Linked DNA regions of Homo sapiens: region 2 is linked to region 1. Evidence: fine-mapped expression QTL. A gene starts in region 1. The other region holds a variant in brackets. All regions are shown on one strand. Distances are between the middles of the regions. Region 1 holds the start of INSYN1 (inhibitory synaptic factor 1). Region 2 overlaps INSYN1-AS1 (INSYN1 antisense RNA 1).

What was found. PIP is the estimated chance that this variant, and not a neighbour inherited with it, causes the effect.
Region 2: its variant is fine-mapped to the expression of INSYN1 in esophagus mucosa (GTEx, PIP above 0.99). The same link has a PIP of 0.9 or more in unexposed skin.

The regions. Positions count from the first base shown.
Region 1 is chr15:73,744,491-73,760,251 of GRCh38, reverse strand. INSYN1 (inhibitory synaptic factor 1) reads left to right here and starts at 6,901. Exons shown (of 3, transcript NM_001039614.3): 1 at 6,901-8,142; 2 at 8,555-9,277. The coding sequence starts at 9,122. RefSeq lists an enhancer at 8,011-8,784.
Region 2 is chr15:73,768,762-73,784,522 of GRCh38, reverse strand. INSYN1-AS1 (INSYN1 antisense RNA 1) reads right to left here. Exons shown (of 3, transcript NR_120353.1): 2 at 15,663-15,761; 3 at 14,721-15,053. Among named protein-coding and RNA genes, the nearest start is that of INSYN1-AS1, 8.6 kb to the right of the region's middle. RefSeq lists an enhancer at 8,760-9,959. The variant C/T (reference allele first, on the strand shown) is at 6,391.

The sequences.
Region 1 (15,761 bases):
GGCTCTACTGGATGTCAAGGGCATGGAGGTGCTCTCCAGCAGCATGTGGTCTGTGGAAGAGAGCTGGATTCACAATGGCAAGGAAGTGTGGCAGACACTGTACTTGCGGTGGACGAGGGCTCTGGGGTGGTGCAGAGGAGGGACCTTGCACACTGGAAGAATATTTCAGGAGGGTCTGGGGGTTGGTCTCGAGAAGAGAGAGGAGAGGAGCATTCCAGGCAAAGAGGAGGGCAGGTATAAGGTGGTGGTGAGGAAAAAGCTGAAAGCAGTTCAGCCTGGCAGAGGCACAGAGAGCAAGAGGCAATAGAGATGAGGTTGGAGAGCTAGACAAGGGCAGGCTCCTGGAAAGATGTGGACGCCAAACTAGGGAGACCGGACTTCCTCATAAAGACAGGGAGCTGTGGATGGTCATAAGTGGGTAGATCAGAAGGCTGGTACCAGCAACAGCAACAGCAGACTTCATAGGGTAAGTGTGAAGATTAGCAGATCCATCAGGAGGCTGCTGGCTAATACAGGGGCTCATGGGTGCAATCAAGAGCCTGGTTATCGACAGGGAGATAAAGTGGGTGGAAGCAACAGGACTTAGTAACTGAAGAAATGTGGAAGAGCTCTGGCTCTAGGGTGGCTCTAACTCTGGCTCTGACTCTAGTGCGATCACAAGTTTGTGGCGTGCATGGAGGAGTAGAGGGCATTGACATTCTCTGAAATTAGGAAGACAAAAGGGGATACATTTGGAGGAAAGGTAATGGGTTCCAACTTGGGCATGTTGAGTTTTAGGTGCCTGCAAGACAACCTCATGAACTGTCCAGTAGGCAAGTGGCAATATGATCTGAAGCTTTGGAAAGGTCTCCTCTGGAGACAGTGAATTGGAAGTCAAAAACTTTTTGGGAGTGTGAAGAGCTCCCTTACGGAAGGTGTATAGAGTGAGAAGAGAGTCTAGACGAGAATCTCGAGGACCCAGCTTTTTTTTTTTTTTTTTTTTTTTTTTTGAGACGAAGTCTCACTCTGTCACCAGGCTGGAGTGCAGTGGTGCAATCTTGGCTCACTGTAACCTCCATCTCCCAGGTTCAAGTGATTCTCCTGCCTCAGCTTCCTGAGTAGCTGGGACTACAGGCACGCACCACCACACCCAGCTAATTTTTTTGTATTTTCAGTAGAGATGGGGTTTACCCTGTTGGCCAGGATGGTCTCGATCTCTTGACCTCGTGATCCACCCCCCTCAGCCTCCCAAAGTGCTGGGATTACAGCCATGAGCCACCGTGCCTGGCCCTGAGGACTTAACTTTTAAGGGGCCAGAGAAAGAAGATGAACACCTGAAGCCAACTGAGAAGCAGCAGCCAGAGAGGCAGGAAGGGAATCAGTAGAGAAAGGAGACATGAGGCCACACAGGACAGGGGACCCGGAAGTAAGACAAGCTCAGCAGGGTCAGGTCCCCCAAGGTCGCTGCCTTGGATAGGGGAAGAAAAGTGTCTGCTGGTCTTAGCAAGGATAATGTCCTGCACAGTGAGGGTTATTCCAGCAATGCAGTGCCAGCAGGCGCGGGTTACAAGGTTTGAGGAGTGAGTGGGAAGTGAGGAAGTGGAAGGAGTCAGTGTAGAAAACTCTTGAGAAACTTGACTCAGCTGGGGAGATTATTGTGGGCAGCAAGATGACAGAAATGTCCTCAGACATGGCTTTCCCAGTGTGAACCCGACACTGTCCAGCCACAGAAGGAGATATGTCACCCTGTCATTCTGAAATGGCCTTTCCTTGGCTATTCAGATATGATTCTCTATAACTCCTTTATTTGGGGACTTTGTCATGAAAAGTTTGCCTCTGATCCCACCTGACTGCCACTCATCCCAACCTTTGTGTTTAGAAAATTTCCCTAAGCCCCCAATATCAATAATAATAGGTAATACTTATCAAACGCCTACTAAGCCCTGTGCTGAACATGATACATGAACTGTTTTATTTAGTCCTCAAGACAGCTACCAGGAAGGTATTTACAGAACGAGAAACTTAGGCTTGGGAAGATTAAATGAGTCACATGGTTAATGGAAAAGCTGGCATTGGTGCCCTATCATTCCAACTCTACTGCCTAAGTGTTAGGCAGTGCTTCCATTTCTCTCTGTAGACTCTCTCTACTGTCTCTATTATCTGTTCGAAGCCCAAACATGCCCACTGTCACCCCGGCACTGCTTCCCTGGTGTCAGGATCCATTGCTTCTGAGAATCTAGCTTGCAGACTGAATCCTCGTTCTCTCCTGAGCTGCATGCCAGTCTCAGTCCTGCGCTATTAGAGAGAGTAGACTGCAGACTAAATAAAAACAGTTACCATTTCTTACCATTCTTCCAACTCCTGCTCCCTCACCCCCACACCCCAGGCACTGTGCTTGGTGCTTTTTGCTCCTTATCTCATTCCATCCTCAAAGCAACCCTAGGCAGTCACTAGTACTTTGCCTATTTTATAGACAAAGGATCTCAAGTTCAGAGAGGGCAAGTAACTTGCCTGAGATCACACAGCTAGCAAATGACAAAGCTGGGGCCCAAATCCAAGTTGGCCTGTTGCAATAATCTCCCAAATGCCCCCACTTCCCCTCCATGGCCACAGGGCAGCAGGTCCCAACCCTCTGGCTTCAGGATTTGGAGACATCTTACCCCATCTGGGAACCCAATTACTCAGTCAATCATTTAGTCAGCTCATTTAGTATTTCCTGAGTGCATCTGTCAGGCTCCAGTTGGTTACACGAGACAGAGACCCCACCAAACGAACTGGAGCAATATGAGGAATTTATCAGCTCTTAGAGATGAGTAGGATGTTGTTGCAGCTCTCCAGACTGAAAGAAGAACTGCAGGAGTGAAGGCCATGAGAACAAAAACTGGGACTCAATGCTGCTAGCATGCTCTCTAAATTCCTCTCCTCTCTGCTGCCTTGCTCAGCTTCCTAGATTGAGTGGGAAAAATGGCTTGTCAGCAGGTTTGGACCATAACATCCAGTTTTGCACCCCACTAGGAAGAGGGGTTCTTCCTCCCAGCATCCACATATCAATCCCAGGGAAAGAATCTGATTGGTCCTGCTTAGGTTATGTGCCCACCCCTTGGACCAATCACTGTTGCTGGAGGATGGGGTTCCACGGTTGGTGCAGTCTGAGTCACATGCCTAGTTAGTGGCAGTGGGATAGGGATGGGTGGGAGTAGTGGGCACTTTAACTGACAACCCACTAGGATTATGTGATGACAGCAGGGAGTTTCCCCAAGAAAAGGAATGCTAGAACTGGATGGTGGAAAACAGGCAGACAGGTAAAAATCGCTGTCTACTGTCTACTGCAGTGGTCCATGTGAGAGATGGGCAGACACACACAAGCCCATCATGAGGAGTTCACAGACTCACATGGAAATAAGGCTTACAGACATGAAGCCATGAATAAGAGCTGATAGCAGCTACCATTTACAGAGCACCTACCAGGTGCCAGGCACTGGGCCAAGTACTTCCATGTGCATTATCTTATTCCATGTTCACAGTGACCCTGGAAAGTAGTCATTATTGTCCTGATTTTTCTGAATCAGAGAGACAGTGAAATACATCCCCCCCCCTTTTTTTTTTTACAAGAGACCCAATTCAAGAAAGAATTAAAATGTTTATAGGCTGCTATCCTTGCTCAGAGAGGTTAAGTGACTTGCTCAAGGTCACACAGCTAGCACATTAAATGAATGCCCTGGGAAGCATTTGGTTAAGGGCAAAAAAAAGTGCTTCCATTTCTCTCCGTAGACTAAAGCACTAGGGAAGGCTGCCTAGAGGGTGGAGGTTGGCGGTGAATAAGCAGAGATCTAAAGGATGGGACATCTAGGCAGGTGGCCAGGGAGGTTGGGTGGAAGAAAGGATGGATCAATCCCCAAACACTAAGGAAGGCAGGTCTGAGCACCACCCAGATACTATCTATTCCCTCTCGCCTGTGGCAGCTCTTTGGAGATTTACAATCAGAGACCCCTTCTCCTGAGTCTCCTCTTCTCTAGCCTGCTCTGACCAGCCCTACCATCCTTCATAGAACATATACACCAGTCACCTCCCCTATTCTACTTGGCTGTCCTCCTATGGACACACCCAATGAATTGAGGTGCTAGGCACAGTTTGATCCACACAAATGACAGAAGAAATGTTACCTCCCTTTTTCAAAACACTGTGCTTCTATTAATGAGACCCGAGATCAATTATGTATTAAGCAGTCACAGTCCACCCTGTCCAATCAAGCTCACTGTCTCCTAACCTTGCCAGTTCAAACACATCTCCCTCATCCTGGATGAGGGCGGATGATTCCCTGGACCTAAGACTAGAAACTCTTTTTTTTCAGGCTTAGCCCATTTTTGGTCTCGGCTGTTCCTTAGCATCACTGCTTCCACAAAAGTGATTGGTGAGACTGTGTGATTCCACTTATATGAGGCACCTAGAGTAGTCAGAGTCACAGAGACAGAAGATAGAATGGTGGTTGCCAGGGGCTGGCGGGGGGAGGGGTGATGGAAAGTCACTGTGAGATGGAATAAGATAATGCATGTGGAAGTACTTGGCCCAGTGCCTGGTGCCTGGTAGGTGCTCCACAGAGAGTGGCTGCTATCAGCTCTTAATCACAGAGTTTCAGTTTGGGATGATGAAAAGGTTCTGGAGATGGGTGGTGGTGATGGTTACACAACAATGTGAATGTACTTAGTGCCACTGAACTATGCACTTACGAATGGTTAAGATGGTAGATTTTAGGCCGGGCGCAGTGGCTCACGCCTGTAATCCCAGCACTTTGGGAGGCCGAGACAGGCGGGTCACGAGGTCAGGAGATGGAGACCATCCTGGCTAACACGGTGAAACCCCGTCTCTACTAAAAACACAAAAAAATTAGCCGGGCGTGGTGGTGGGTGCCTGTAGTCCCAGCTACTTGGGAGGCTGAGGCAGGAAAATGGCATGAACCTGGGAGGCGGAGCTTGCAGTAAGCCGAGATCGCGCCACTGCACTCCAGCCTGGGTGACAGAGCGAGACTCTGTCTCAAAAAAAAAAAAAAAAAAAAGGTAGATTTTATGTTACGCATATTTTGCTACAATTTTTTAAGTGATTGGTGGGCCCTCTGGATCCACCCCATCAGAAGAACATCTCCCCAACCCAGGGCAGCTGGATTCCCACCCTCACAGCTTCTGGTTCTCCAAAGGCAACCCCTGAGCTGAATCTCAAGGAAGTAGGAGTCAGTTCCCCCAGCAGCCCCCTGTGAATACATCTCTGAGATAACTCAGAGACCAAGGAACATCATTAGCACCCACAGTACCATCACTGTCTCTGGAATTCAAGTCCCCCATGGGCCAGCCTAAAACCACCACCTAGCCCCACCTCCCTTGACCCCTCCTCTGCCTCTAGTTCAAGATCTCTGCTTCCCCGCCACTTAAACTTTTGAAAATGTCATCTGTACTCACTCCTGTTCCTCACTGTTGGGCACATAGTCCTCGATGCCCAACAGTTTGGTTCCTGTCACCTTCTACCCTCCAAAACCAATTGCCCCTGCCATGTCACCCGTGGCCTCCTGAGTACCAAGACAAATAGACACTTTCTGTTCCTTCTCTCACAGCCACTCCCTGCCGCGTTCGACACTGATGAGCACTTGCTTCTCCCAAACTCCTCCTACTGGGCCTACATAACTCTCCACTTTCTGGTTCTTCTCCTATCTTTCTAATCACTCCTCCCTCTCACTCATGGACTCTTTTCTGAGGTTCCAGCCCAGAACTACTGCTTTTGTTACTTCTACGCAGCGTCCCTGTTCATCTCACCCCTCTAATGATGGTTCAAAAAAAAAAACAAACAAAATGTTACTCTCAAGCCCCAGCCTCTCTCATGAGCATAGATTCATAGACTCCACTGTCTTCTGGCCAACGGTGAAATAGCCTCCTAACTGCTCTATCTCGGTGGCACCTCCTCACACCCACTCACAATGCCCCAGAGGGGTTTCCTGAGAAGGCAAGCAGGCCCAGGTTCCTCCCAATATCAAAGCTCCCTCCGCCCCGGGATAAAATCTAAGCTCCTAACCATGGTCTCTGAGTCTCTCTGTGGTCTGCAGTCAAAATGGTATCTAAAAGGCCCCAGTTAACTTAAACTCCCCTCCTCCCATTTCTGCTTCTGAGCCTGTGCTCCCACCCTCCTCCCTGCCTGGAATGCTGATCCCCAACCCCCCACACTGACAGTCACTCCTACTCCTCCTTTGAGATTCAGCTCAGGGGTGGCCTACCTGGCAGAACCCGCCAGGCCCTGGCCTGAACTGCACCACCCAACCCACACTTCCCTACTCCCCTGTTAACATTGCTTCCAGAATTTGCCTCTGTTGTGACTCAGGAGTGTCCCCGAGCCGTGAGCTTCCTGAAATGCTCTGGTGGCCCCGGAGCCTAGCATGGAACCTGATGCACAGAAGGCCTCTAATACATGAGTCAATTGTTGAATAGCTGAAGGAAACGATGGGTGTCCAAGACAGCCTCCAACCCCCAGCCCTGCCGACCCAGAGCTTGGCACACAGTAGGTTCTCAGGAAAGGTTGGCAGTATTCTATTTTCTGAATGAATGTGATTTCAGGCAAGGTCAGGGGCTGGGTTATGTGGGTGGTAGAAGGGAGGGTCTGGATGCGGGAAACGTGGCCAAAAGGGAAGCTTGGGGGCAGTGCAGTAGGGGAAGGGGGCAATGGGGGTGTCTGGAGAGGTGGGAAAGGAACGAAGTCCCCAGAACGCTGTCCCTCCGCGCCCCAGGTCAGCCGGCGTGGGGTCCGGTCAGTCCGCCTCCAGCCCCGCCAGCGAGACCCTTCCCCCTCGCCCGGGTGGCGAGACCCCCCTGGCTCGCACGCTTGGCCCTCGGGGTTGGGAGGCGTGTGTGTCGCTTTAAAAGCTCCCTCCCGGCGCGGCGGGCCGGCCCCTTCCCTGACAGCGCCGAGGCAAGCGGAGCCAAGCGAGCCGGGCGGCCTTTAAGGGAGCCAGCGCCCGCCCGGGCGGCCAGTCCGGCGGGGGGCGGCGGGGCGGGCCGGGGGCGGCCGGGGCGCGGGCGGCGCGGCGCCGCGGCGCTTGGGGAGCGGGCCCAGGCCCCGGGAGCCCGGCGGGGCAGGGCAGGGCGAGGCGGTGAAGGGAGGCCCAGCCCCGACCCGGCGCCTGTTTGCCCCACCGGCGGCGACCCGGCGCCCGGGGGCTGCTGAGGCGGGGAGCCGAGAGCGAACGGACGGGAGGTAGCGGAGCCGAGCGGAGGCTGCGAGCCTAGTGCGCCCCGGCCCGGCCCGGCCCGCCGCTCGCCCCCTCCCCTCCCTTCCCCTCGCCGCGCCTCCTCCCCTCGCCTCTTCTCGCCTCCTCTCCTCTCCTCCGCCCGGCGCTGCTCCCGCCTGCGCCCGGGCCGCCGAACCCAGCCCGGCCGGGGCCCCCGGCTTCGCGCGCTCTCGGCTGGGCCCGGCGGGGACCGGGTCCCCGCGGCTGACATCGCCCCTCCTCGGGGACCCGGTGGATTCCGGACCTTTCGGAACGTGAACTGAGCCGTGGGAGCGGTCTCGCCCAGGGCCGACCGCGGGGCTGGGCTGAGCAGACCCTCGCGGCCGCTCCGGACGCCGCGGGTGCCGGGGCACGGACGTTCTGGGTCCGGGCTGAGCGCGTCCCGGGCGCCCGGCGGTGCCAGCTCACTCCGGGCGGGGTAGGGCAGGGCAGACCCCAGCGGAACACGGACCCGGCCGATCTGGACTGGACAGAGCGAATCCCGGACGGTGCAGAGCCCGGGGAATGCCGGGCGTGGGCTGAGGGGATCCCGGCGCCCTCCCAGCCCTCCGACTTTGGCTCACGCGCTGGGACCTGCCCGGCGTCTCCTCGGCCTCCCCGCGCCCCGGTCACCTGTGGCCTCGGAGCCCCAAATCTGCCGGACCCTCGCTCATTCCCGACCCCGAGCCTGGAGAGGCTTGAGAAAGATTTTTCCTGCCCCCTTCCCTGGAGCGCGGAGGCCCCGCCCCCTCCCACCGCCCAGATGTCTCCGGTCACGGCTCGGAGGACCTCCCTGAGGCCCGGGGCCGAAGGGTCCAGAGAGAGAAGCCCGCCCTAGGGAGCCTTGGGGGCCCCCCAACTCCGTCTTGGGGCTTGGCCCCCGACGCTGCTTGGAGGGAAGGCCGGTGCCCCCACCCTCGGTGAGTCCAGGAGTGGGGGTTCTGAGGGAAGGCGGGGCTGGGGGAGGGAGGGTCCGCTGGGAACGAGGGCACCCTGGGGGCGCTAGGAGGGAGGATGGGTGACTGGAGAGGCCCTCTGGTGAACCAGCCTGGGCAGGCCTGGCTGGGGGGAAGGTGGGGGGGGAGGGCGGGAGCTACGGCCAGGGTGCCCCGTAGCAGGCTGAGGACTTCTGCTTCTAAAGCAGGGGCTCCCTCCCTTTCCCTCTAGAGGAGGGGCTGTGCTGTAAACCGTCTGCCTCCACCACCCCTCCCCACAAAGAAAAAAAAATCCCCAGCGAGGAAGGGTGCAGGCTGGCGAGAGGAGGGAGGCAGCGGCATTGCCGGCTGGTGCTGCAGCCTGGGAGGGCTGACGCCAGGCTCGCTCTCTCCGCAGGGGGCTGCCCTCTTCCAATCCAGCTCCCTCCCCAGAGCTGCCCATATCCGGAGCCCCTTCCACATCTGGAAGACCCTGGCCACCATCCCTCTGCAGGTGTCAGTTGCATCCAGAGACCTCTGCCTTTGCAACTGCCTAGGAGTTGTGAGGGGATCCCTGCTGCCTTCCCCCATCCCAAGGGCATCTCTTACCCTTAGTCCCTGCAGAGTCATCCCCCTGCCTCTGTGTTCAAGCTCAGGCAGAGATCAGCTCTGCACACCCACAGGCACTTCAAGACCTGGAGGCCACTCCTGGGACCCAAGGTCCCTCCCCCTCCTCTCCTGTGTCCTCACCTTGACCCCCTCTGCTAGACTCTGTCTCCCTCTGGGTGTCCCACTCTCCACCCAGAGGCAGAGGAGGCTGGGTGGCAGGGGGCAGGGGCTGGTTGAGGGCCGCCCAGGGCCAGGGTGGGCTGGGGGGCCGTTAAAATGTGGAGCTCTGCCCAGCCGAGGGGGGCTCCGTGGAGGCAGACGCAGTGTGTGCCCAGCTGGGGGGAGTATGGGCAGGCCTGCGGCCACGTGGTAAACGATGAACATTCGGGGCGCCCCGGACCTCGGGCAGCCCAGTGACGACCCCAGCAGTGGTGGTGAGCGGGAGCGGATTCGACAGCGCATGAAGATGGTCATCGGGCAGCTTGAGGGCATCCTTCGCGAGCTCAAGGAGGTGGCCAAGGAGCTGAGGGAGGTAAGTGAGGGGTGAGGAGGGACCAGACAGACCCTAAGCCAACCTTCTTGGGTTTGGCACAAAAACGTACTCATAAATACGTTGGAGTGTGCAAAGCTGCGTGCACATGTGTCACTCTACTGGGGACCTTCTTTCTCCTTGCTCTCCTTTCCGCAAATCTGCTTTGCTAAAAATCTCATCAGACCCCAAGGCTGGAGGGGCCTCGGTGTTGTAGAGGTTACTTGAGCAGCATGTCAGTGGGCCTGGAGCTCTGGGTTAGCACAAAGGGCTGCCAAGATGGCCAGTAAGGACTGAATCCCGCCACAGCTTCTTAGTGGAAGACAACCTTCTGGGACCCAAGCTGACCCTTGAACCCACCATCTGTCTCCCAGACTCTGATCTGGTCACAAGGGACCCTGGGAGAGTGCAGATAGTTGTGCTGAGGTGGTTTCCACTGCTTGAGGCCCAGCTCAAAGCATATCCCTAGAAATCACACAGATACTGAGAACCCTTGATCTTGGAAAAATTTAAGCCAGCTATGTCCTCTTTGTCCGGGGGTAAGAATGGGTCTGGGGGTGCTGTAGTGGATAACAGAGTTCCTTGCATATTTTGGCAGGGGCAGGAGTCTTCCCTAAGGGGATGCGAGTCTCCATCCCACTGTTCTAAATATTTTTGCCAAGGCTGAAAAGCCACTGAGAAATGCTGGGATGTGTGTGTCCCTCTCTGTCTTTCTAAGTGGAGCCTGGTTTAATTACTGCTTCTCACATCGCTAGGGTAATGAGGTACACATGTCTTCAGCCCTGCCCCCTGTGCTGCGTTCGAGTCCAAAATGCATGACCAGCGTTCTGAGCTGCTAGCCTGAATTTGCCCACTGGGTGCCATTATACCAGCCAGGTGGGCTTTAGGCAAATTTCAACTCCTTGTAATCAGGGCCCCTGCAGAGATGGCAGGGAGAGTGATTGAATTGGAGTTATGGGCTCAAGCTCTCCCTGGCCAGCTGTGCAGGGAGGATAGGGGCTCTAGGAAGGCTGAAGAGGTGGGGTGATGGTAGGTACCAACTCCAGGCTGGCAAAGTGGCATTGCAGCCTGGCCTGAGAGCCAAGGAGGAGGGGTTGTTTGAAGGGCACTGTGTTCAGAATGGGATAGGGAGTGGGCATAGAGATGCCAGGACAAGAGCTGTCCAGGGTCAGCCTCGTGGAGCCTACCAGGAAATCCCATCTCAGAAGATGAGAATGACTGTTGCTTCAGGCAGACTGAGGTGGTGGTGCTTCTGCCCATGGACTGGGCCGGCCATAGTCTGGGTTGCACATCTTTGGACAGTACAATTTGGAGATCAAGCGCCAGATGCCCCTGCGGAACGCTTCCTCCTCCAAACTCTTGGGTCCAAGGCACTACAGTTTTCCCCCTGCCTCCATCTTATTTTAGATCAGGGCCATGGGAACTGTCCAAAGTCTCAGTCTTGGCCAGGGACATGAGACCTATGCCCCGGCAGGTACCCACAAAGAGCCAGGATTGACTCTAGGCCTGGGAGTCAACTCTGATACAACTCCCAGCCTTTTCCCAGTTGGGCATCTTCCAGGCATCTGTGTTCCCTCTCCCCACCGCATAGCCACCCAGAGCTTCAAAGGATCTCATAGGTAATCCAGACCAGCTCTGTCCATTTACTATTGAAGAAACTGAGGCCCAGAGAGCAATAGGGGCTTGTCCAAGGTTACACAGCCTACCAGTGGCAGAAGTATGCCTAGAACTCGGGTTCCTGATGCCTTTTCTGGGGTTTCAGCAGGTGAGCTACTGGGCGATCTCTTTGCATTTTGACAGGGGCCTTCCAGAGATGATCTCTTATGCTCATCTGTGATGCAATAGCTCTAGGATTTATTTGCAGATCGTTTAGATGCCCTCTCCTTCCCTTTCACACTCACCCACTCCCATGTCTCCAATAGCAGAGCTCCAGGTTCACAGGCTATGCAGCCCAGAGGCCTCAGCCAGGACAGAGAAAATGAGTCCCCTCCCCCCACACACCCTGTAGGCCATGTGCCTCCACCCAAGACTTTGGCAGGTTGCTACGGCAACCAGAGCCTACCCCGTATGCCACTGCCTGCCCGCTGCCAATGGCACCCAGCTGGGGGAGTGGGTAAGCCTCAGAACTCTCTCGTCCCCCAGGCAGGGTCTAGACACAGGGTGACAGGCAGAGGGGAGTGTGGAGGAAGGCAGGTGAAGCTCTGGGAGGCCCAAGCAAAAGAAGAGATGCCATCACCGTCTTCCTGTGAGATGGGATTTGCCAGGGATGGGGTTACCAAGGGGGGGTGCCAGACCCCGGTTTGGAGAAAAGGGTTGGAATCTCCCTGCTCTCTGGAACCTGTGGTCTTGGCTCTTGGCTCTCCAAGGGAGCTGTAAAGCTGAATCTGCCTGGCTCTCCTCAGTCCCTTTGTGTAGCATTTTTTTATCGGGGGCATGGGTAGGCTCAAGGTTGAGAGGCACTCACTTGTTCCCTCACCTCACCCCATGACCTGGGCAGCACCAGCTTAGAGCCCACCAGCTGTGTTCTTGTCTCAGGCCAAGCACTTAGAAGTGGAGATGAGAGTCACATACAAGACTGTTGGGGGTGGGGGGCTGCACATATGCTTGGTGAAAGAACAAGGCCAGCGGAGTGGAAGGGCTTAGCTTTATTCCCCTCAGCCATCTTCCTCCTCTGCCTGCTGCTCCCCTTCCCCAGCCCCCTGATGCCACTGATCATGGCAGACTCTCCTCATCCTCTCGAGCATATGGCCTGAAATTCACTGAAAGATGAGCCACACCAAAGCACTTCCTCCCCAGGTCCCTCAGCCTCAGTTTGCTCATCTCTGAAATTGGGATGTGGTGATTTGCACTGCACGGTGATCTTATAAGGATTTATTAGGGGCTTGGCATGCAGTGGGCTGGGGGCGCGGGGATCAACACCTACTCACACTCCTAGAAGAGTTGAAGTTCCCTCTCCCACACCTCCCTCGCCCTCGCAAACCCCTACTATAGCTCTGCCACTGGCTCCCTGGGCGATGAGCAAGTTCTATCCCATTGGTGGGGAAAGTCTTTTAAAGGATTAAGTGAGGTGAGGATGTAAAAGTGCTTTGAAAGCTAAAATTGTGCTGCAGAGGGATATGACGGTCAATCGTTAATTAGCCCTTATCTCTCCCAGGCTCCCCAGTACTCCAGGATACCGGGCCAGTCCCAGCAGGTTCTCTAAGCTCCTCAAAGTTCTGTAGATCTTAAGTAAGAGATGCAGAACAGCTCAGGGGCTATGAGCATGGGCTCTGCAGCTAGATGCCTGTAGTTCAAATCTGAGCTCCACCCTCTCCTTAGCTGTGTGAACTTGCGAAAGTTACTTTACCTCTCTGTGCTTCTGTTTTCCCATTGGTAAAAATGGGGAGACTACATTTTAGGCATCCTCCCCTACCCCTGCCCCAGGGTTGTTGCGAGAATTAAATGAGACATATATAAAGCACTTAGCACAATGAGAGGCACAAAGCTCACTCCGTATCTGTTTGATGTTTTTAATGAATTATTCTAAAACTGGCCTGCTCCTCAGCTCCACGTACGGCCTTGTTTTCTGGAATCACATCAGTTTCTTAGCCATGACCAGGGAGGTCAGGACCACATCCTGGCCTCCTGGCTGGGGCCCTTTAGTTTCTCCTGCAGTCAGCAGTCTCACTCCCTGCCAGTGGGAAAAGCAGATAGAGAGTGACAGGGATGGGGGCAGGAAGGGGGTCTCCAATAAGGTGGCCTTTGAACAGAGACCCCACAGAAGTGAGGATACAAGTCACATGGCTATCTAGGGGAAGAGCATTCCCGGCTGAGGGTGCAGCCGGTGCCAAGGTCTCGAAGAGGAAGTGTGCTTGGCATATGCAGGTTCAGCTAAGGAAGCCAGAGCAGCTGGAGGGCAGTGAACAAGGAGAAGAGTAGAGGAAAGGTCAAAGAGGGAGCAGGGAGTCAGATTCCGTCGAGCCATGCACAGCATGCACGGAATTTGGATTCGTTCTCAGTGAGAATCCCACACACTCTCCAGGAATCTGCTGGTCATGTTTCTGGGTGGGAATCTGCCTCCCCACTGCTCCCCTGTTACCCACCCACCAGAAGCTCCCAAAGGCAGGGTTAAGGGCCCCTGTCCTTGGCCCCCAGGTATTGAGCTTACCTTGAGCAGGTACTTGGCCTCCTCATCCTTGGTTTCCCCCTCCCCCAGGCGTCACTCAACATGGGGGCTCAATAGTGATCCTTGCATTAACACCAGTGTCTCCCACATCATCGGTGACTCTTGGGTGGGATATAACTTAAGGGCACAGTTGCTCACTTTGGCCCAAACACCTCAGGAAGATGGAGGGGTTGGCACAACGTTTCCCCAGCCTTGGGTGGCAGTGGAGGATCCCCCACCGGATTTGCCTAGGAAGCAGTCATCCTGGCATTCTGTTTCCTGGCCATTCCATTGTGCAGTCCCATCGGCAAGGGGCTTTGTCTGAAGGTGGCAGGGAAAGCCATAGGCCATGCAAGTGTGAGATAAATGGGGCCCAGCCAGGAAGCAGCTGGAGCAGGAGAGGCTGGGGACCACGGAGCTGCGCCAAAGTGGGTCAGCTCCATCACCTGCAGCTCAGCAAGAATTGCGTGGATTTTTTTCTTATTATTTTTGTTCACGCCTTCCTTTCCTCCCTTTTCCCTTTGCCTTCTCCTCCTCCGGACAGATTTACCAAAGCTCCCTGGCCAATTAGGCCAAATTGCAGGATGAGAGCCATGAATCACGATCAGCTCGCTGCCCCTCCAACTCCACAGCCCCCCAAGAAGATAATAACGTAATCACAGAATTAAAAAATAATCAGTGGTCATAAATAATGCAGAATCCCCAGTTATGTAACCAGCTGCCTTGGGGAGCTGGGAGAGAGGGAAGGAGGTGGCAGCTTGTCAGGGGAGGTGAGGTGGGGCAGGGTGGGGGGTGTGGTGGGGGGTCCGGGGGTACAGGATGCTGGTTCTGGGACTACAGGTCCTCAGTCCTAGCTCTAAGGCCTTAAGGAACACAGCAAAGCTTCCACTGGAGAGGGGGCTCAGCCAGGGCTGGAGAGAGGGTTGGCGTCTGGCAATATAGGATTGTCCAGGTCTATGGAACTCTTCCTCAGAAAAGAAGCCCCCAGCAGTTTTTTTGTTTTGTTTTGTTTTGTTTTGTTTTTTGAGACGGAGTCTCGCTCTGTCGCCCAGGCTGGAGTGCAGTGGTGTGATCTCGGCTCACTGCAAGCTCTGCCTCCTGGGTTCACACCATTCTCCTGCCTCAGCCTCCCGAGTAGTTTTTATTAAGCCATCTGTCTCAACTCATCACTCATCCAACAGCTGTGTTTGCAGAATGTGCCGATCCCTGTGCCGAGCTGGGGATGTAGCGGTGAGCAAGAGACCTAGTCCTGCTCCTCATGGGGTTTACTGTGTAGTGGGGAGACAGACATCAACCACGTTATAACATATAGGTGCAAAATTGTAGCAGTGTTAAATATTGTGTAACATTTTCAGGAGAGGTGCAGGGTGCTTTGAGAGCCTTTCATAGGGAACCTGACCTCAGCTGGGGATCAGGGAAGGCTTCCTTCTCGAAGTGAAGACGGAGTGAGTAGGAAAGGAGGGAGGGCGTGTCAGGTGAGGCCCAGAGGCAGAAGTGAGCTCGATGGAGTGTGAGTGTGTAGGGGTGGTGAGGAGGCAGGCCTGGCAGGGTGGAGGCTGCTTGCTGGAGAGGAAAGGGGGTGGGTAGGGAGTTATGTTTGGGAGGCTTAGGAGTTTGGGGAGTATGGAAGGGCTGGAAGCACAGGGGCAACGTGGACCTGTTGGCTGATAAGAAAGTTCCCTAGGTGCAGCATGAAGCAAGAGCTGGGAGGAAGTTGCTATCGGTGGAAAGACTAGATGGGTGCAGTTTTTCAGCGAGGGGCGCTAAGGCTGTGACCAGGACAGAGGTTGGGGACACCTCTGGCACGAGGTTTGCAGGTTCTGCCACAGCCCTCAGTCCTGCCCTTGCTCTCTAGGGCTCCCTCTTGGTCTCTTCAGAGCAAGTCATTCTTGGTCTTAAGGTGCAATGCCCAGGAGTCAAGACTCACCCTCTGGTCCCAGCTCAGCTCCTCCCAGTCTCTGAGCCTCATTGCCCCCCTCGGCAAACACATTGAGACAGGTGGACTCAACAGTGCCTGCAGTCCCTTCTGGCTTGGGGGTTGTCTGATTCTGTAATTTTATGGTTCAATTTCTCTCTCCACTCTCTCTCTCCCCCTCTCTTTCCTTCTGTGTATATAATTATTTCCATGCACTCCAAGACAATCCCAAATTACATGTAGGCAAAATGATTATTAAACCTCAGGGAAAAATCACAGATTTCAAGACATCCAAAGCAGAGAGCAAGACAAGACTGGGGTCTGCTCCACACCTGCCCTCACCATTGGCCCAGGAAACGAGGCACCAGGGAAGAGCAGTGGGGATTGTGAACTGACCCAGGCCCCCCACAGAGAAGCTGCATACCCTT
Region 2 (15,761 bases), 24 kb before region 1:
GCCTAGCTGGCAAGGAAGGAAGGTAATGAGAGCTCTCATCAGGCCCGAGGAGGGGGTCAAAGCCCAGCCCAGGGCTGGCCCCCACCCAATCACGCTCACACATCCAGGATACCAGGTTTGAAAGACACCATTAGTGCTCTCCAGGGCTGAGGAAGAAAGCCTAGCAACTCAGGCTGTCCTGAGATTCAAAAGTGTGAGCACTGTTGTCCTGGGCCCTGGAGTTCAGGGGTTCAGGACCCAGCCATGGAGGAGTCTGAGGGGAGGGGCGCATGCCCACACATTGCTTCTCTAATTAAATGGAGCACAGGACAGAGACCAAGGGTACTCTGACAGCTCAGAAGAGGGAGCCACAGAGTCCCTCTTATTATCCCCTTATTATTCCACAGAAAGGAGGAGGAAGAGTGGTTGATGATGATGATTGTATCAGTCCATTCTCCTGCTGCTAATAAAGATGTACCTGAGATGTACATTACTCAGTACATTACATGTACGTTACAGATGTACATTACATGTACTGAGATGTAATTTATAAAGGAGTAATTTATAAAGGAAAGAGGTTTAATTTACTCACAGTTCAGCATGGCTGGGGAGGCCTCAGGAAACTTACAATCATGGCAGAAGGGGAAGCAAACATGTCCTTCACATGGCATCAGGAGAAAGAAGAATCAGTGCCCAGTAAAGGAGGAAGCCTCTTATAAAAACCATCAGATCTTATGAGAACTAACTCACTATCATGAGAACAGGATGGGGGAAACTGTGCCCCACGATTCAATTATCTCCACCTGGTCCTTCCCATGACACATGGGGATTATGGGACCTACAATTCACGATGAGATAGCCATAACATATCAATGATGATGATGAAATTGACCCAGCATCCTTTGTTGGAGTCCTCATTGTACAAGAGGTACTGTGATGTGCCCTGGGTATGCATTATTTCATTGGTGACAGCCTCACGACAACCCTTTGGAGGCAGCATCTTGTTATTCCCTCATTTTTTCCCAGAGGTGCCATCTGAAGCTTGGAAAGGTTAAGTAGCTTGCCCCAATTACGGAGTGGAGACAGGAAGGCTTCCTGGAGAAATGGCTTTTAAGGGATGGGAAGATGGCAGGAAGGCCACAGTGGAGATGGAGGAGAGGGCAGAGGGCAGGTGGGTGCTAAGAGTAGCAGGCAGTCCAGACAGAGTGAGGCTGGTGATGCGGGGAGGGGCCAGCAGGGAATGTTGCAGCAGATCCTGGAGGTGATAGGGAGCCATCGAATGTTTCAGAGCACAAAAGTAATGGAAAAATGCGTTAGGGACAGTGTTGTAGGGTGGGGAGAAGGAGCTGGAATATAGCAGTGCCAGGAGGGTGGTCTAGCCCCTGGCTCCAAAAGCCTGCACTCCTGGCTCTTAACCAACAGGAGAGGAGGTTCCTGGAGCCCAGCAGGAAGGATTCTGGCCCAGAACCACCTTTGGCCATACCACCCAACCTCAGGCAGCAGGCTGCCATGACACTCAACCTGGTAAAATGGGAGTCAGCTACTCCTCTCTGATCCTCAGTTTCCCCATATGCTCTGGGTTGCTACTGGTTTCTTCCAGCCATAGGAGGGCCTGGATGGGCTCCCTGCCTTTTGAAGAGAGCTCTTGAATCCCAGGGACAAGCACATTTAATGGGAGGGTTTCAGGCCAACCTCCAACTTTCAAGCAGCAACTCCCTCATCCAGAACAGCTGCTCAATTACCTCTTAATCTTCTTGATGGAGTGGAGCCAGCCAACCACTGCAGGTCCACGCCAAGTCCCCAAGCCACATCCACAGATCATACCCTACCCCAGAATTCCCAGATGGCTGGGTGGAGGTGTGGAGAGCTCAGGACAGCTTTTCCCTCATACCCAAAACTGCTTCCCTGTGCCAGTGGGTCAGACCAGTAGCCTGGAAGAGACAAAGTTTTAGCCACAGAGACCTGGTTTGAAATTCTACCAATAATGTTTGGCGCTAGGCCTGGAAGGCCCTTCCCAACCTATCCATCCACTCTGGGCACCCTTATTAGCCATGAACAGCTGCCTCTAGGAGTGGTTTTATTAGATTCATTTAAACCTCTGGTTTGGAGCAGGTTTGGATGGTGGGATTGGAAGACAGAGGATATAGATGGGGCAGGAAAGGAAGCCAAGAAAACCGAGCACTGATAACTAACTAGGTTGGGGCGTTCATCTCAAAAGCCAAAAACGAGGGGCCCTGTCCCAGCTAGAGCTTCGGTTGAAACCATTCCATTGCAGGAGCCTGGTAGGAAGTTCCCCAGGTCCATGACAAAACACACACAGGTGTTTGTGTACACAGATGTGAGCGCACATGTGCACAGACACACACACACAAACACATGACCAAGCAGTAATCTAGGAGAGGCTGTGGACTTACTTTTCCCTTCTGAAGATTTTCTTTTCTTTCTTTCTTTTTTTTTTTTTTTTTTTTTGAGACGGGGTCTCGCTCTGTCACCCAGGCTGAAGTGCAGTGGCATGTTCACAGCTCACTGCAGACTCAACCTCTGGGGCTCAGGCGATTCTCCCAAGTAACTAGGACTACAGGCATGTGCCACTATGCCTAGCTAATTTTTAAATTTTTTGTAGAGATGGGGTCTCATCTCACCATGTTGTTCAAGGCTGGTCTTGAACTCCTGGCCTCAAGCACTCCTCCCACCTTGGCCTCCCAAAGCTTACAGGCATAAGCCACCAATGCCTGGCCTCTGGAGATTTTCTGACATCATGTGATAAGCACGTGTCCACCATATCCTCATCCTGGAGCTGATGAAAGTACTAGTACTGTGCAGGACTGAGTTCTGAGACCTGCAACTGGAGACTGGAGGACTGAGCCGTAACTGCTTCCCTGGGAAGCCTTTTCACTGATTCTTTCAGGACAGTGGCCTAGAGAGGTGGGATGGGGAGGTGTGTTGGAAGGCTATCCTTCTGCAGTGATGTGACTCAGACCAGAGCATAGTGGCAGGGGAGTAGTGGAAGGGAAATACAGGTTTTTATTTTCACCCAAGCACTTTGGTTTTGGGCAGAAGCTGCCACAAGGTGTCAGTAAAGGCTCAGAGAGGTTGGCTGACTGGTCCAAGGTCACACAGGCCTTCTGATGCCCAGACCTGGGCATTTCCTACTAGACCCAGAGTGATCTGCTCTGTCTGAAATTGGTTGGCAGAATCACGGGGCAAGCTCAAGAAGGCCTGAGCGACCTTGCTGGGCGGTAACATAAGGTAACTTCCTGGGCTCAGGCCTCCAAGGGGGAAGGCTATGTCAGATTACATCAGTGAAATGGGAGGAGTAGGGGATGAGCCTGGGCTCTGCAACACTGTGTGAGGCTGACATTGATGGCACAGCAGTGACCTCTCCCCGCCCCCACACCACCCCAATTCTTCCTGAATGATCGTGGCGTAACTACTACTCACACTTATCTGCATACCTTCCTTCAACCCCCAGAGGAAGCCACTTCATCAGTCAGTCAGATAAAGAGGCCAGGTCCTTTCTGCTGGGGTTTTGAGGCTGGTCCTATTTAATCTCCTTTTCTTCAAAGGCAAGGAAAGGCCTTGGCAGGCTTGGGACCCTCTGATGCTCCCACCCAGAGAGGGGCTCTCTGCTTTGGGGTCTGGCTCTCCTTTCTGCCTGGCCTTGTGTTGAAAGCTCACTTCCTCTACTGGGCTCCAGGGCCCAAGTTGCTGGGCACAGTGGGGGCAATGGTTAGCATTTGTTGAATGACTGTTGAAGCGAGACCTTTCTGGAGTGGCCAGCTTCCCCCCTGCCTCTGCTGGCTCTCACAGCTAGGGGGCTGAGGGCTGTGCTTTCTGGGGTGGGTGACCACCTGTAGCAGATGCTCCTGGCTGGTTGGCCCAAGCCTCTCCACACCCCTTTTTCCCCAGCCACCTTCCAGTGACTGGCCTAGAGATGGCCACGGGACCCACTTCTGGTCAATGAGATAGGAGTGAAGTCACCGGGTAGGGCTTCAGGACATTCTTTCTAGAAGGTACAGAACTGGCATTCCCCTCAGCCTTTCCATCTTCTTTCTGCCTGGAAGTTGGATCTAGGTGTGGAGTTGCTGCAGCCATCTTGCAATTATGAGGCAACAAGCATGAAGACAAAGGCTTTCACACTAAGGTTGGTGGAAGGGACAATGAGAGGAGCCTGGAGCCTTGACGGCCTGGTGGCCCCAGACTGCCCATCCCTGAATTTCTTTTTATATGGAATAAATACCCTCCTCACCCCCACTGCACCCTAATAAACAGTTAGGACACTATTTATTAGGTTCTCTCTTACTCACTGTCAGATGCATCCTTAATTGTTTTATCACCCTCCTCCAGTTAGAAATGCTGAGCTCGGGTAGAAAGGGATCTCTTTCCCCTGACCTTGATATTGGCAGGAAAGGTCAGAACACTGAGCTTCCAATGCACTGTGAGTCCAGGATCCTTTGGAGCAATAAATGGCCTGGAAATGAGGCTGACTTTTGAGTGACCAGTAGCTTCTCTAATAGACCGAGCTCAGGGACCATGCAGTGTCTTCCCCTTCTGTGGAAGTGCCCTGCTTTTCTTACCCCATGCTCTCTCCCAGTTCCACCAGCCTCCTGACTAACTCCTAGTGTCTTTCAAGACTCAGCCTGTGTCCCCTCTTCCAAAAAGCCCCTGCCACCCCCATCACCCACCCCCAGGATGGGTCAGACATTTTCCCTTGTACCCCTACAGTACCCTATGCCACCCGTAGCACAGCATTTGTCACCAAAGATGTCATGGACCATGTGTCCATGTGTCTGCCTTGCACCAGATGAAGTGTCTTTTTAACCTTTCTAAGCTGGGTACCTAGAGCAGGTGTTCCAGTCATTCAGGAAGTCATTGTTAACTTGCTCATTCATTCATTCTAGGTTTACCGAGCTTCTCCTAGAGATCCCAATGCCAGGTGGAGCAGCTCTGCTCTGCTAAGCTGTCACAGGGCCCAGTGCACCTTGCATAGTGGATCCTCAGGAACAGTCCCAGAAGGTTGGCCTCAGGGATGGGTCCTCCAGCCACAGGCCTTGCTCCTTACAGCTTACCAGAGCAGGGAGAGGTGCAAGCTTGGAGCCAAGATAGCAAAGTCGGATCTCATTCTTGGCATTCTGCCTCCTCCCCCACCCCACTCTGCCCTGCCATTCAATAAGGAGGAGAGTCAAGGCCAGAGTGTCCACATGGGGGGTAAATAAAACTGGGGGTACCTTGCAGGGCCTGCAATTATAATCACCTCCTCCAGGACTCAGATTTGGGAGCTGAGGATTAAGGAGGAGGCATGGGCAGAGGAACAGGACTGCTTCTAGAACTCCTAAAGAAATTGAATTTATAGTCAAAACTCTTTTCACAGAGAAAACTCCAGGCCCAGATGATTCTCCTGGTGAATTCTTGTGAATATTTAAGTGTAAATAAACAAACCTTATTATGCAAACTCCTCCAGATAACAGAAAAAGAGGAAATTCTTCCTAAGTCATTTTATGAGGCCAGGGTGATGTTGATATCTCAATTCCCACATCTGTAAAGTGGGGATAATAATAGGTGGTGCCCACCTCTGAGGTAGGCAGCAAGATTTGGATTAAGGGAGTTGTATGTATGGCCCTTAGCATGATTCCTGACATCTAATATGTCCTCAATGTTAGATGCCAATAATTGACGTGGCCAAGCCCCAATTCAGGCCAAAGCCTATGTCTCATCTGCACCATGCTGAGTCTAGAATGGCATTCCTTAGACAAAGGGAACAGAAAAGAGGGTTGGGGAATGATGTTGAAAACAGCCCCTGTCCGGTGATGGCCACTTAGCAAACTTGATCTTGCTGAATCCTCACGAACACTCTTCAAAGTAGCTATATCAATCCCATTTTACAGGTAGGAAAACTGAGGTTCAAAGAATCTGCAAGTAACTGTATAAAGTCAAAGCCAGGCCTGTCTTCAACATAAAGCAAGTTACTAACCAACCAATCCGTGGCAACAAAGCTCTCTGACCTTGGGCTGAGGCTATCTAGATTTAAGGGTTCCTTTCTCTCTCTCTTTCTTTTTCTTTCTTTCCTTCTTTCTTTCTTTCTTTCTTTCTTTCTTTTTCTTTCTTTCTTTCTTTCTTTCTTTCTTTCTTTCTTCCTTCCTTCCTTCCTTCCTTCCTTCCTTTTTTTCTTCTTTCTTTCTGTCTTTCTTTTTTATTTATTTATTTTTTGAGACAGAATCTCACTCTGTTCCCCAGGCTAGAGTGCAGTGGTGAGATCTCGGCTCACTGCAACCTCCGCCTCCTGGGTTCAAGCGATTCTCTTGCTCAGCCTCCCGAGTAACTGGTATTACAGGCATATGTCACCACGCCCAGGAGAGGCAGTTTCACCTTGCTGGCCATGCTGGTCTTGAACTCCTGACCTCAAATGATACA[C/T]CCACCTCAGCCTCCCAAAATGCTGGGATTACAGGCATGAGCCACTGCACCCAGCCAAGGGTTCCTCACTGTAAAATGACTGAAGGAGTTTCTCTCCAGGCTGTTAAAAGACAAGAAAAACACACAAAGAGTTCTGACATAAAACTGCCATTCTGTCTCCAAGGTTCCCATGAGCCTACATTCCCCTGCAGGTCTCCACCTGCCCCAGCCTTTACATGGCTCATGTCATAAGGAGGTGGGTCACCCCATCTCCTGCCTTATGGGAGAGGGAGGTTGTTATTGCACAAGTAGTACATAAATACATTCTCATTGTAATAAAAACTTAACCAATTCTGAAATATGTTGAACCCTACCCAGAGGGGAATACCATTCAACCCTGGATAGATCTCCCTCCAGACCTGCTTCTGTGCATTTATCTCATTATATAGACGCATCATTTCAAGTAGTTCTTTTACATGACTGCAATAATCCTGCAGGTATTGTTCTGCAACTTGCTTTTTTCACTTCACAATCCCACGTGCTATTTATATCTCCTTTACTTTCCCGATGGATTCAGGAGGTTTACCAGAGTTCCAGAGGGTGGGTACAGAGCCCCAGAAAGAACATGGGGCTGGAGTCATGCTGACCTAGATTGAAATCCTGGTCCTGCCATTGCATCTGGGTGACCTTGAGCCAGTCCCTAAAATCTCTGAGCCCCAGTTTCCTCACCTGCAAAATGGAGATAGCAATAGGGGTTACCTCAGAGGCTCAGTGTGAGACTCCACTATGATATGACAAAGCGGTGTTAATAATTTCAGATCCTCAGCCTGATCCTCAGCTTCCCTAGGGCTTTGAGTACAAGGATTTAAGGGTCTGGAGGTCCCTGGTGGGCAAGATGGTCCTTAGAAATCAGATCCCAGGGCCTTGAGCAAGTCCTTCCTTACCCAAGACAGACAAGACACAGGAAGAGAGAAAGCAGCAGAGCAGCGACACGAGACACCCAGAGTCACTGCTCCATGGCTGCAGACCACACTGGGCCTCTCCAGCCACATTGGGAGTGCTGGGTGTCCTGCTCCTCCACATCCCATGGAGGTAGCAGTGGTGATATCTGTCTGGGTTCTGCTTTCCCTAAGCTGGGGAAAAGCAAGCTGCTTTTTTCTTTTTCTCTTTTTTTTATATTTTCTTTTTTTGAACATACAGGGTCTTGCTCTGTCACCCAGGCTGGAGTGCAGTAGTAGTGCAATCATGGCTCACTGGGGTCACTGCATCCTTGACCTCCCAGGCTCAAGCACCCTCCCACCTCAGCCTCCCGAGTAGCTAGGATTACAGGCACATGCCACCACACCCGGCGTTTTGATTTTTTGATTGCTGTTGCCCAGGCTGATCTCGAACTCCAGGGCTCAAGCAATCCTCCCACCTTGGCCTCCCAAAGTGCTTGGATTACAGGCATGAGTCACTGCGCCCTGTCCCAAGCTACTCTTAGTAAATATCTGTTGATTCCACGATCCATTCCTTCACTTCTGGAGCGTGTTGGAAGATTCTTCTTCCTATTTCAAAAACGGGGAAACTGAGGACAGGGAATGTCAGAGGCTCTAGACATCATCTGGCCCAGCTCCCTCATTTGACAGACGAAGTGACAGAGACCCTGTAGGGAGGAAAGCAAAAGGCATGGGACAGCCCCGGCATAGAATGAATACAATAAATGCTGCATGAGGGGCCAGATGTTTTATTTAATCCTCCATCCTGGCCCATAAGGTAGGTATTGCCATTTCCCATTTTACACACCAGAGACCTTAGGTGGCTTTCTCCAGGGAGCACCGCCAACAGGAGCCAGAGTTAGAACTCTAGTGCGCGAGTCTCTCACCCACTGGCTCCCGGCACTGCCCTCTCTTGCCTCCTGCCAGTCGTCCCACACACTGCCTCATCTTCCTGGCCTGCCCCCTGGGCTGCAGCTCCCTAGGAGGCCTCTCTGACCACCCTCCTGTGCCCCACTGCTCTGATACAGACAACCATCCTGACCTTCAGGACCCCTGAGCTCTCTGACTTGATGAAGAATCTGTCTTCTCTCCCGAGACTGTGGGTCGTTGAGGAGAAAGAGTCTAATTCTGAAACATTTCTGGGTCTTCACATCCAGCATAGAGTCTGGTCCAGAAGAAGCAAATGCGAATGTTTGTGGAAGGAAAGGAGGGACAGAGGGAGGGACTCCAAGGCCATGCTCTTTCTTCTATCCCACAGCTTATTTGACACAGCCAAGGCTCTAAGATTTGTTTTTTGTTTGTTTGTTTGTTTGTTTGTTTTTTGAGATGGAGTTTCTCTGTTGTTGCCCAGGCTGCAGTGCAATGGCACGATCTCGGCTCACCACAACCTCTGCCTCCCAGGTTCAAGCGATTCTCCTGCCTCAGCCTCCCAAGTAGCTGGGATTACAGGTATGTGCCACCACGCCTGGCTAATTTTTTTGTATTTTTAGTAGAGACGGAGTTTCTTCATGTTGGTCTGGCTGGTCTCGAACTCCCGACCTCAGGTGATCTGCCCACCTCAGCCTCCCAAAGTGCTGGGATTATAGGCATGAGCCACGGTGCCCGGCCAAGGCTCCAAGATTTCATCCCACATTGCACATCCCCTTCCCCCACCTCACTGCCACTGGCCCTCTCCCTACTCCTCAGCCTCCCTCTCCCAAGTGCTAGTGCTCCCCACTCGTGAGGGCAGTAACCCCTCCCCCCCCCTCCCCTGCCGCACTGCCCACAGCCCTCAGGGACTGCCCTGCCAACTGAATCCCACCAGGGCCCAGGGCCTCAGTGATGGCTCTCTCAACAGGCCGCTCCCCTTAAGCAGGTGACAAGGCCTTGACCACAGACCCGCGGAGGAAGGTCTTGGAGGCCTGGCCTTGCCTGGCCCTTCAAAGCAACTGAGAAAGTGGCCACCTCCTCCACAGTGCCGCCCTCCTGCTGGCTGGAGCCTGTGTGGTCCACGCTCCTTTTCCGAGGTGGGTAGGGGGCTGGGGAGACTCCCAGGTTTTGTCAGCAGAGAACCATAGTTGGGGAGGACTGCGTTTCCATGGATACAAGCCATGGGAGCTGCTGGGAGATGGGGCCATGGTGTACACAGATACAGATCCACACGGACCTGCAAGAAAAATAGCAACAGATTTGCTGAGTCATTGGCCCCACATATTTATAGTTTCTGGCAAAGGCAGACCTGCCTATCAGAGGCTAATAATACTGCAGCAGCGTGTTAATTGCAAAGACGGAGCCTTCAAGCATCCATTCAGACACCCGAGACCGCTCCTTGAATAAAGAGTGGGGCCCTCACAATGAAAGCCGGGATGCGTGGAGGCAGCGTGTGTGCTTAGGAGTGTATGTGCATGCAGGTATGTGGAACCCAGCTCTGGCACGTTCGGAAAGCCAGACCGAAACCACCCCGCACCAGAGTGTTAGAAAGCACTCTTCAATCACCTAAGGATATCTAGGATTCAGCCCACTCTACAGATGGGCAGGGTGTGAGGAGATTGACAAGAGGAGAGCAGGCTGGTTGGCTATGTCCCAGGGGTGAGAGGAGGTGGACGGGGTGCTGGTCTGCAGCCGTGAGAGACCTTTGTGGGGACAGCCACTGTCCTCTAGCTCTGCACAGTTGGGTAGTTAGGAGAAAGAGAGAAACAGGCCTCTATCTTCTGGAAGGTCAGCCCCAGTGGGCCACCTGACACACCTGAGATCCCACAGGGCCCCAATACAGGAGGCAGAGTCAAGGATGTAGATGCCGGGAGCGTGCCTGACGTCTTGAATAAATGCCCAAGGGATAAAGTCAACCCTAGAAGACCATCTATATCCTTTGCCTCAGGGAGCCAGGAGGCCCATTTAGCTCTGAATGAGGCAAGCCAAGTCCTCACCTCCTAGGACTTCACCGGACATGGTGGTCCTGTCCTTGGAGCACTGCCTTACAGTAGCATTAGTTATATCTCATTGCCTCTGCCCCTCTGGGGGCTTCACATGTTCCCAGCACCTGGAAGAGCAGGCCCTCAGTGAGGGCTTGTAGATGAAGAACCAAATCCCTCAGGTTCTTTGAAAGCAGTTCTCAGTCCCCCAACTCTTCTGAACTCCAAACCAAATCCTCCTCCCCTGGCTTGGGTTCAAGTCTCATTCCTGGCTGTAGTCCTCTCTGGACGTGCTCCTTCTTAACGCTGAGCCCTTCGCTGGATGCAGAGGGCAGAAGATGGGTCTCTGACGGGATCCCCATCTTCTTATTTCAGCACACACACTCCTGCCCTCAGGACAAGGAGGGCAAGGATTGCTGGATGCAGCCTTCCCTTTGCTGCAGCTGAAACAGCCTCCTGGCCTCTAGCCTCCAGCCCAGCCTAGGAGGACAGGTCATCCTCTTTCCCGGAGGGATCTGACAACAGATGGGTCATGGCCTCCAGGGACCCCCGAGGAGCAGCAGAGCAAGGCTCTGCAGGGAGGAGGAGTAACCAGGCTCGCTGCATGAGCTGGGCCTCCATTTCTCCCACTCCTACCCCCAAAACAGCTCAATCATTCGTGACTGAGTTCACAGCATTCCGAAGTAAGGAGGCAGAAAAGGAGGGAGGAGGGGAGAGAAGAGAGGGACATCCTTTCAGTTCTCACTTCTCTTCAGGAGAAGGTTGACTCAAGAGCTATTATTAATAGTAAATTAAATAGTGCAGTTATTCTGAATAATAAAAAGCTCTTCTGTTCCAAGTTTTCACTGTCCTCTCTCGAGGGAAATACCTGCTGTGGCCTGAGATGTGGCATCTAGTGAATAGCATTAATAGGACAAAGCAGATGCTCCCGCTGTGCCCAGTCACAGGCCACCAAGTCCCCTCCAAAATGCCTCCTCCACCCGAGCATCAGGGTGCAGGGAGAAGACAGGCTTCAGGTGCCCCAGACACCCCAGATCACCCCGCGATGATCACACCACAGAGCCCAGGCTATGTTCACCTCAGGGTGGAAACCTTGTCGATGGCATCCCTGCTGGTGAATAGTGGTCCTCCCACTTGCTAGCCGTGTGACCTTGGGCAAGCCCTCGAACTGTTCCATTCCCTCATCTGTAAAATGGGGATAATGATAGTATCTCTCTCATGGGTTTGCTAGAAGGATTAAGGTTAATATGCATAATATTGTTATTATACGTATAAAGGGCTTATAACTGTTCCTGGCATTTAGTGCAATGTAAAGGTTTCTTAAACAAGAGGGTGCCAGGCTGTGCAGAAGGCAAGCCCAAGATCTAAGACTCCATGCGTCAGGTTTGTTGTGATTGAAACCATTACAGCAGAGAGCTCCTCAGTAGGTGTCAGCCCAGGCTGATGAAGGGGATGCAGCGATGTGATGTCCCGCTCCTCTCTGGGCCTCAGTTTCTCCACCCATGCATGGGGGACAAAGGTGTATGAAGCGACAGCTATGGCCCAGCCTGTGCTGACCTGTAACTTATAAAACAGCTAATGTACATTGAACTCCGACTACGTGCCAGGCACTGTGTTAAGTGCTTTATAGTCAGTCAGTCATTTCATGTAATCCTCACAACACCTCCATAGGTAGGTACTCTGTTCCACAGATGAAGAAATTGGGTCTCAGAGAGGCTAAGTAACTTGCCCAAAATCACACAGTTAGCAAGAGGTGGAGCTAGAACTTGAACCCGGGTCTGCCAGACTCCACAACCCAACTCCGATGCCCTTGAAGTCATGTCACCTAACCTCTTATTATATAGTAGCCAGGAATGTGTTGTGTAACTCAGGATTGCTTGGCAAAAAAGAAGGGGCAGGTCTGGGCTGCTCCTGTCCCACCCCAGGCTTAGCAGCCAAGCAGCCCTCCATTTGATACAGGTTGAACATCCCTTATCCAAAATGCTTAGGATCATAAGTGTTTCCGATTGGGGATTTTTTTTTCAGATTTTGGAATATTTACAAATAGTTACTGGTTAAGCATCCCAAATCTCCAAATCCCAAATCTGAAATGCTCTGATGAGCGTTTCCTTTGAGCATCATGTCCACGCTCAAAAAGTTTCAAATTCTGGAGTATTGCAGGTTTCAGATTTTCAGACTTGGGATGCTTAACTAGTATCAGCTTTTCTGAAGAGGTGAGGACTCTAGCTGGCTGCCTAGTAGTTGAGGGAACACAGAGAGTTGAAAATGGATCCCATGGAGAGTCGGGTGAGAAGACCCTGGGGGAATCAGGGGATGCACCCAAGGCCCGGTGGAGAGCCAGACACAGAGCTATTGCCGGCCCAGGCCCAGAGCAGGTGCCAGCATCTGGGATGTGCAGGAAACCCCAGGGATGCAGCCTATCAGAGCCCCTCCTGCTCACTCCCTCCCATCTACCCCGAATCATCCGGTCCCTCCTGGGCCCACTTGGCTTCCTCTCCTGCATCTCCAATGGCAGCAGCTTTTGAGGGGGGAACACTCTCCCCTGGGGCCCGGATGCTGTGCTAAGTCGTTGTTTCTGAGGAGGAAACAAGGCCGACTGCATTTTCTAAAGAGGCTCCAGGGAGCTGCAGCCACCTGTGAGGCCTGCGACTGGGGCCTCTCAGTGCCCACCACTGGGACAGCGAACCCTGCAGGTCACAGGCGGTGGGTCAAGTAGGGGGTCCATGAGTGTGAACAAAATGTTTGACCTAGGGCTGATTGAGCAACATTTGTGATGGGGCAGACACTGGGCTGGGAGATGAGATGGGGTGGATCAGGCAGGTCCTCAACCTCCTGGGGCTTCTAGAGATAGAGGTGAACATAGAAACTAACCTCCCCCTGGTAAGTAGCAATGACGCAGTAACTGAGCTTTGTGGGGTCGGAAGAGCAGGGACTGATAAGTCCTGCCTGGGAAGGAAGGTGGAAAGGACATTCCAGGCAGGAGAGCAGCCAAGTGAGAGGGCCGGAGGCATAGGAGATGTGGGGGAGCCTCCTTCCAGGAGTTCTGGTCCTATATGGTTCTAGGTGAGAGATTGGAGGTGATAAGTGGTGTGGACAGAGGCCAGTTGTAAGAGGCCTGGAAAATGCACACAGAAGCTCGAGTTTCCTGCTGAAGGCAATGGGGAGCCACTAAAGGGAGTCATGTGATTGGACTGGCCTTTAGAAAGATCACCCTGGGACAAGCTGACACCCCATCCAGCTCTCCAGAGCCCCAGCTCAAGCCCTTAGGCGTCACAGTGCTCCTGCCTGACAGGCCATCCTGGATTAGGGGGTGATGCGGGAAAAGTTATGAGTTCACATTCATGGGACTCAGCACAATACAGATCCAACCAATACAGATTCTCCCTGGCAATGGATCTCTTCCGCAATTCAAAGATGTCTACATTAGAAGTGATGACGTTTACATATCAGAAAATCCACCCCTATAATTAATCATGTCAATTACCAGAAAGGAAATAGTTTTGTGATCATCTTAACTGACATCAAAAACTCATTTGACAGAACTGAATATCCATTCTGCTGAAAACCCTTAGTAAAATAAAAATAAAAGAACATTTCCTTGGCATAATAATAATAAAAAAAACCTATCTGCAACCAACCGTCAACATCATTCTTAGCAATAAAACACCTAGCCAGGGTCATTCATATTTTAGTCAGGGTAGAATGAGAAAGCCTGCTATTAACACAATTATTTTACATTGTTTTGGAAGTTTTAGCCAAGGCAAGAGTACATTAATACACAAAAGGAAACACAACATTTGGAAAGGAGGAGAAATTGTCATCATTATTTGTACATGATATTATTGTTTATCCAGAAAACTCAAGAGAATCAACTAGAAAAGTAATAAGAGACTATGAGCGAGGTCAGTAAGATGACCAGTTTTGAAATAAATACACTGGCAAAGTCCAATTAGAAACCTTAAGAAGAAGAAAACTGAGGAGTGAGGCAGTAGCTCAAGGGTACTCAAGGTTGCAGAACAAGCCCAACCACCTCAAAGGTCTCCTGTTAGGGCCCAGCCTAGCAGGGAGGGGGAGAGAAAGATGGGGTGCACCAGCTGGAGCTGCAGAGGGCAGGGAAGTGGGGAGGAAAGGGGTATCCTGAAACATCTTTCTGGGCTGGTAACAGTTGGGCTTGGACTGGGAGCTGCCCTGTTGGGGGAATATCCAACCCTGTGGGCCTGGTTACCAGCAGCCCTGGCAGACAGCAGCTCAGGCCAATGGGATGCAGGCAGTTCTGAGAGCCGGTACCTGACTGCTGGGGGCTCCAGGATGCAGCAAGTCCAGGGTAGAGGACTGCAGACCCTGATGGAGAACTGTCATCCACTGCGGGGCACAGAGTCCAGCAACGAGATTCCAGCTAAGTGTCGCTGAACATCTGATGGGCTGATTACAAATTGGTCCCCTGGATTCATTAAAGTAGATTTCCCAAGAGAAGCTGTCCACGGCAGAGTCACACCCAGCCAACCTTTGAGCTCCATTCTGATGTCAGGGGCTGGCTCCTCAGCTCTCTGCCTCCAGGCTCCTGGCAACTGGGCCCTTTCTTGCTTGGGGTGGCATGATTCCCCTGGAGGCATCCGGCAGGTCTGCAGATGCACAGGCACTAGATGCAGTGCCCCCAGGGCCATTCTCAGAAAGTGAAGCTTGATTTTTTTTCTCCATCCATGGTGTGAGTATGGCATGAAATGCATGCACGGCTCCTCTCACATGATGAACAATCTCTGGGATTTACACCCAAACTTCTCCTTTCTCTCTTGTCCTCCTCACTCATGGGCCCCATCTGCATGAGAAGAAAAGAGAAGAAGAGAAGAGAGGAGGAGAGGAGAGGAGAGAAGAGGAAAGGAGAGAAGAGAAGAGAAGAAAGAAAAAGAAAAAGAAAAAACAAAAATCAAACAAACAAGACATCACTCATTCCCCCCGTCTACCCTCCCACCCCACCCCACCCCATTTGCTCCCCACCCACTCATACAACTGCCCCTGTCCAGGGAAAAGACAATTACTTCCAGATAAGATGTTGCCATTTACAAGGAGATTTCATGCAAAGCAATGGTTGGAGCTTCCATGGTAGAATTTTAGGACAATATGTAGGAGTACAATATTTTAGACATTGAATTATGTGAGGATCAAATAATTGAAAGCTGGAATTTTTTTTTCTTTTTGAGACGGAGTCTCGCTCTGTTGCCCTGGCTGGAGCACAGTGGCATGTTCTCCACTCACTGCAACATCCACCTCCCAAGTTCAAGCAATTCTCATGCCTCAGCCTCCCAAGAATCTGGGATAACAGGTGGCCACCACCATGCCCGCCTAATTTTTGTATTTTTATAGAGACGAGGCTTTACCATGTAGGTGAGGCTGGTCACAAACTCCTGACCTCAGGTGATCCGCCCACCTTGGCCTCCTAAAGTGCTGGAATTATAGTCATGAGCCACCACGCCCGGCCAAAAGCTGGAAATTAATGAGTTCAATGCAGACTTCAAACTTCTTGAGG